Homo sapiens: one gene and its partner. The protein of the gene in region 2 purifies or fractionates together with the protein of the main gene of each other region. This does not show direct contact. Each region holds a gene or a part of one and is shown on either strand. Other genes may lie near its edges.

What was found.
Region 1: the proteins of LIN52 (region 2) and BRMS1L purify together in Homo sapiens (affinity purification with mass spectrometry, with the first as the bait; one large-scale study listed by BioGRID). This does not show direct contact.

Annotation. Positions count from the first base shown.
Region 1 is NC_000014.9:35,832,838-35,836,337, reverse strand, and holds part of BRMS1L (breast cancer metastasis-suppressor 1-like protein), read right to left. Parts: intron 3,361-3,500; coding exon 3,233-3,360; intron 1,495-3,232; coding exon 1,415-1,494; intron 1-1,414. UniProt on the Homo sapiens protein: Involved in the histone deacetylase (HDAC1)-dependent transcriptional repression activity. When overexpressed in lung cancer cell line that lacks p53/TP53 expression, inhibits cell growth.
Region 2 is NC_000014.9:74,192,956-74,196,455, reverse strand, and holds part of LIN52 (protein lin-52 homolog), read right to left. Parts: exon of another isoform or gene 3,179-3,500; intron 1-3,178.

The DNA of each region.
Region 1 (3,500 bases), about 38 Mb from region 2:
ACATCCCATAAATAAAAAGATAATAAATTCAACTACATTAAAATGTAAAACTTCTTTGCAGCAAGTCATCAGAAAGAGTGAAAACATCGTACCACCTGGGCAAAAAGATTTGCAAAGCATACAACCAGCAAAGCATTTATAGCCAGAATATATAAAGAACTTATATAGTCAATGAGGGAAAGACTAAAAGCCAACACAAAGGCAAGAAATACAAATAGGCACTTCTTAGGAAAAAATATCCAAGCAGCTAGTAAACGCCAAAAAGATAATCAATCTCAGTTGTAATTATGAAAATGAAACAATGAGCTCTATCATTTTTATACCTAACTACTCTTAGTTTACGGCACATTAAAGTGACAGAAGAATCGTTATAGAACTTGTCCTCTTATTTCTACCTGTATATCTATAATCTTGTCTAGATTTGATAAAAAGTTATCTGCAAAACGGGCACTATGGGGTTTTTTTGTTTGTTGTTGTTGTAGTTGCTATTTCTGAGACAGGGTGACACTCTGTTACCCAGGCTGCAGAACAGTGGCACAATCACAGCTCACTGCAGCCTCAACCTCCGAAGGTCAAGCAATCCCCTCACCTCAGCCTCCTGAGTAGCTAGGACTACAGCCACCTGCCACCATGCCCAGCTAATTTTTCTATTTTTTGTAGAGGTGGGGGGTCTCACTATGTTGCCCAGACTGGTCTTGACTTCCTGAGCTCAAGAAATCCTCTCGCCTCAGCCTCCTAAACTCTTGGGATTACAGGTGTGAGCCACCATGCCTGGGCACTATGTTTTTTAAATGCTATAAATATTTTAACCCATTTATGCCTAGTGTTCCATTACTGGAATGTTAAGCTTGTGGGAGTTATTTATATCCTACTGCTCAAGGTCATCACCAAGATCTGATTTTTCACACACACAAAAAAATTGCAACCTTCAGCATAAATGGGTTAAATGCAAAATAAACAGAATATACAGAAAAATATACCTATTTTTTTTCCCATAAATAGAGAATTCTGCCCAAAGATGTGGAAATAGGTCTAGACAGACAGAAACTAATTCTATAGCCCAACATCCTAACTGCACCATTGAGTGTATATTTCGCAAATCTAATCCACATTATACTAATTATACTAATATTTTCAGTAATGCCAGGTGACATAATCGTTGCAAAGTCTTTTTAAAGTAACAGCTGCAAAACTTCTAAAATTATCTCAGTTTTTTTCTATGGTCCTTTCTTTGTGTCCTATCTCCAATACAGCTTCCAATGCAACTCTATTCTTTTTTTTTTTTAATCACACACAAATGATGAGCTAAAGTACTATTTAATATTGTTTTACTTAGTTTACTTTTTTAACTACTACACTCAGAAAAGGCTTGAAGAGATGAAATTAGCTTAAAAGTTATGCAAAATGACAGTACCTCACAATGCTGGCGAGAAGCTTGAATTTCACATTCATATTTGTTCTTTACAGATTCTAAGCAGAGCTCTCTATAGATTCCTGCAACCAAACACAATTACTCTGATTATGTTAGCAATGAGAAGTTCCATTATCACTTCCCTACAGGAATTCTGTCCTCACTGTATTTAATAAGATGGATCAAGAAAAAATTGAAAAGTGAGTCTAACTTTGTCTTTAAAGACTAAAAATAAAAGGCTCACTTAAAATATATATCCAAAAAGATTAGAAATTATAAGAGCTAGAAAGAAACTGTACTGCTAGTTTTTGTTCTTAATCTATTCTTCTAAAGATTACTCCTAAATGTTTGATACAGAATAATCAAAATGAAAATAAAACTCTTTTCCTGTGAAAAACAATCTCTCAAGTTTCTCAAAATAGAAATGGAGATAATAAACTCTGGTGTCATCAATCACATATACTCAGAGTAACAGCTAGATACTATACCCCACCAAAACCACTTTTTTTTTAACTATCATTTTCAATCCAAAGAATCCACGAGGAGTAAATGTATATAAACTGATATAACAAAATCAATTATGTCTGGAGTGCTCCTGACAGGACTTTATCTAGAGGATGGATACCCAAGATAGTTTAACTTAGACCCTAACAGGACAATAGTATAAAATAGGTAACATGGCCATGCAAATATGTCACTACAAAAACGGCACGCAAAGAGCTCTGGATATGTATTCTAAGCTTTATGCCATAGTTGGCCCTAGAAATGTAATTATCTCTCTTTGTATAGTAAAGGCAAGAGACAGATATCTGGAACTACGTCATCAGCAACACATTCACACACACTACTCTGCAAAATCAAAATATAAAAGAGGCCAGAGTAGAAAAGTAAATAATCGACTCAAGTAATATTTCCTGATCATCCATGTAATCTAAAAGAACAAAGAAAATTAGGGATATTTTTACTTCTAAGGGTATGTTGTCAATATGTAAAGATAGCAGTGAAGAGTATCATATCATCTACATAATATTAAGCACTCAAAAATAAAATTTGGTTAAAGGAGGGTTTAGTAAAAAGAACTTATTATCAACAATGCCTTAGGTATTATCTAACAGGTACATAAGGGTCAATTAGTGCCACATAAGAGAAAAACAACCAGCATCTCCACTAATTAAAGTTTAGTTTTTGACTATGAAAAATCATATATATATCCCTTGATTATGAGTGCCAGGACATGATACTGAGGCTGGATCCTATTTACAAACATAAGACTGAAATGTAACCATACAAATATAGTGCATCTTTGTTTATTTGTAGCCACAAATGAGTAACCAAACTTATCAAAGTAAAAAGGAAAAATTAAATCATCTAGTTCAAGGCAAGTTTCCTGTTCTATAATATCCTGATCAAACATTTTTAAAATTTTTTATAAATTAAAAAAAATCCTATCACTTTTACGTATTAAAAAAATGCCTAGAACACTTAAACTTTATCTAATAGGGAATTAAAATGTGATAGTAACAGTCTCTCTTAATGAAAGTATCATGGTTTCCAGTTGTTTCACCAAATGTGGAACTATCTTCTCAACAACACTGTAAACAACTTGAGGGCTTTTTTTTTTTTTAATCCCCTACAGCAGCAGAGCAAAGCAAGAGGTATTCAATAAATACAGTAACTGTGGGCTAACTAAAAGTAAAATATTCTGGTCGATGTAAATATGCTTGTAATCCCATCAACATAAAACACTTACTTGATAAACACCTTTTAAAGCTACTGAAGAGTTTACATTCTATATATGGAAAAGATTCTTCACTTTCCTACCTGCTACCTTTGTACGAATTTGCATATTTTCCTGTAAAGTTGCCAGCGGTTCCAAGTATTCTGGTGCTTTTCCAGCTATGACTTCTTGTAGTTTTGCATCCACCTGACTTAATCGTTCTTTATAAAGTCTTAACAAAGCAAAAATTAATATGTTAATTTAAAAATCTCAACAAAGGCTAACAATTTGCCATTTCTATACATTATTTGTTCCCAATATCATTTATATTCTAATAATCTATCAAATATATTTTGCCTTGATCTCAAGCAG
Region 2 (3,500 bases):
AGAGCCTTGTTCCAAAAATCCTGGGCCTGGAGCACTGCATTGCTCTAACCAATGATTTCTGCCTGCTGACCTTCAGACTCACCAACTCCTTACTGTTTTTCCCCAAATGGGAAAATGACCAATATTTTAAGACTTAGAATTTTAAAAGATCCACACAATTTAAGGGGTCAAAAGGGTTTAAAAGGAAAAATAAATAGATATTCTGAAGTCTCTCAGTGGCAAGCTCTCCTTGAATTTAACCAATCCTTTTTAACAACCCTTTTTCTACTCAATCATTCCTCCCCCTTCAACCTAATCCAAGTACACAGAGCTGCAGGAAACCACTGTAAAAGTAGAAGTAATTCAAAAGACATCATCTCCTACATGGGAGGAGAGAAAGTTTTCCTACTCGCCAGTCCCATACAGGAGATATACGAATGTATGACACAGCCGCTCCCTAAAAGAGGGCTGTGCCCTATAAATCAGATGCTAAGCACCAACCCCTTTTTGTGCACAGAGAAATTGCTGTGGGTCAGGGGCTGCTCCAGAGCACGTGCCCTCCTGTTCACTTGTCATCAGAGATGTTAACATTTCTGATTAATTCATATAGCCCTTATTTTATTCCTCATTTCTTTATCCTTGCTCTGCTGCAGGGCGAAGATTCTTACCGACCTGCTACAGTAATCACCGCCCGCTAACCGAACCCCCCCAAACCTAGTGAAATTGTTTAGTGATGCCAACTGCGCTTTTAATTTGCAAGACATCAGACACAGAGGTAATTTATACTAACATCTGTTCATTTTTGACTTCTGAAACAAACTTGCACATACTGCTACAAAATCCCATTAGGAGTAGGGAGACAGCCTTCTGCTACTATTCTGTATTCCTCGTCTACACGCGCACACACACACACACACACATACACACACACACCCACACACACCTCTTCTAGTAGGGTCTTATAAATAAATGTATTTTACTCTTAGCTTTTTAAGCTCCCATCAGGAATTTCAAATCTCTTTGGGGAAAAATCTTTAGAGATGACTACTGCCTGCTTACAGAGAAGAGAAAGCCATTTCTATTCCCCACTGCCTGGTTCTGTCCCTTCTTCTTCACAATGGTTGTAGCTTGGTATAATTCTAGGATGAATGGCCAGAGTAAGACTACATGTTCTTCAGCTTGGCACTCCCAGTTCCTCCATTTTCTCCTTTTTCTTTGTTCCCCATAATGTATTATATTATATAGAAAACAATTCTAGACACAACAAGATTGGGAGAGAGAGAGTGTTATATAGAGTCAGTGAAATCTGTCAACTATTTTCTTTTTTTTTGAAACAGAGTCTCGCTCTTGTTGCCCAGGTTGGAGTGCAATGTTGCAATCTCAGCTCACTGCAACCTCTGCCTCCCCGGTTCAAGTGATTCTCCTGCCACAGTCTCTCAAGTAGCTGGGATTACAAGCATGCACCACCACACTTGGCTAATTCTTTGTATTTTTGGTACAGACAGGTTTTCACCATGTTGGCCAGGCTGGTCTCGGACTCCTGACCTCAGTTGATCTGCCCGCCTTGGCCTCCCAAAGTGCTAGGATTATAGGCATGAGCCACCTCGCCCAGCCTGTCAACTATTTTTTTGATTCTGGATTTATTCTCTAAGATTACAAGGTTTCACAGGAAGGCAACACCGCTTCCATTCTAATAACTATGCCAAGAGGGGCCCACTGGTCATCAGCTACTGGTGTATGCCGTGCAGGAGAGAAGCATGACCCCTATGTCAAGTCATGATTTACAGGCCCTATTATGTCGTACATAGATCACAAATTGAGAAAGCCACAATTGAAACTGTCACTATAGGGTTAACATGTGAAATGCTGCAGAGTGTGGAGAGGGGACTGGCTACTACACACTGAGAGACAGCAAATGGATAGACTACAATCAACTTTCAGGTTTCCACTGTTTCTGTTATCCCCCACCACTTTCGTAGTTCCTCCAGGGCTATCCAGTTCATGGCAGCTGTAAATACCTGGGTATACTTGGAGAGGTCAGGGCTGAAAGGAGGACTCCACTGTGCCTGCTCTGAAAGTGGTGTGTGGTTTAATATAATCTCTTCTTTAGACTCTCCAATTCCTCCATCCTACATTTAGCCTTGCTTCTGGCTCACTTTCCACGATAACTATCCCCAAACTGCCTTCTCTGCAGTAAATTTTTCTGGTGGCTGGTTGAAAAAGATTCAGTGGTACAGATTGATTTCTCACTGGTGAGGGATGAGGGATTACCAGAGGCACCCTGGTTAACGAGATTGGGTGCAGAACCTCTCTCAAGACCAGCCCTCTCTGCCAGGGCTCTGCACCTTTCCCCAATGACATATGGGTTTTATTACAGAAAGATTGTCCAGATTATAACTTTGAGGCAATTGCCTGATAAAATTCTGCTCAGCTTTTATGTAGGGAACAATGTAAATTTTAAGAAACTTTTTAATGAAGTGGAAGAAACTCATAGTTCAGTTTTTCAATTCCAATGCAAACTACTTTAAATATTTCTATGCCTCAACATAATTAAAAATGTTTGTGAAGCGGGGACAAATTACTTTCCACTGGGTTTCTCATATTCAGAAGAGCAATAACAGGTTGCTTTTAGGAGATTGTAATATGAGTGGCCAGGAAACAAAGGAGACAATGTAATATTGTGAAAAGAGCAGGACTTCAGCTCTTACATTGACCCTGGGCCACATAGGCAAATTACCAAGTTATTTTTCTGAGCTCCTTTCCTCATTCATTCAAGGTAGGATTAATACAAAGTCACACAGGCATTCAATAAATGCTAGCTACTGTAAAACTATTTGTTTCATTTCAAACAGAAAGTTTACTTAAGCAATAGGATGCCTGGTGGGAAAACTATCTAAGATTCATTTCTTTTAGAGTAACTTATCCCTACTTAAAGACATATTGCCCTACATGTAACAGCTATGTACAAGAGTTTAAAAACTGGTTGGTTTTAGAATGACACGTGAAAAACACCAAAATTCTCAAATTTAACAAGGTATGGAAGGATTTTTTTTTTTTTTATAAGAGACAAGGTCTCGTTCTGTCACCCAGGCTGGAGTGCAGTGGTGCAGCCATAGCTCACTGCAGCCTCAACCTCCTGGACTCAAGTGATCCTCCTGCCTCAGCCTCCTAAGTAGTTGTGACTACAGGCATGCAATACCTGGCTAATTTTTTTCTTTTTTTTTTTTTTGTGGAGACAGGATCTTGAACTACTAGCTTCAAGCATGGAAGGATTTTTTGTTATTGATTTTTATTAAATGATGAGGCAAAATAACTTAATGAAGTATAAAGATAAGAGCTGAATGAGCATGCCACTAATGGAGAAAGGGGGCATTGCCACAGAATCAGTATTTATCCCCATCTTATCTCCATCTGATGTTGATCAAAACATATCATTGGCCATTTAGTTTAAAAATAAAAAGGTAATATGCTTGTGCACAAATGCCAGTCACTTTATGCACAGTAAAGGAATGAGAAAGGGG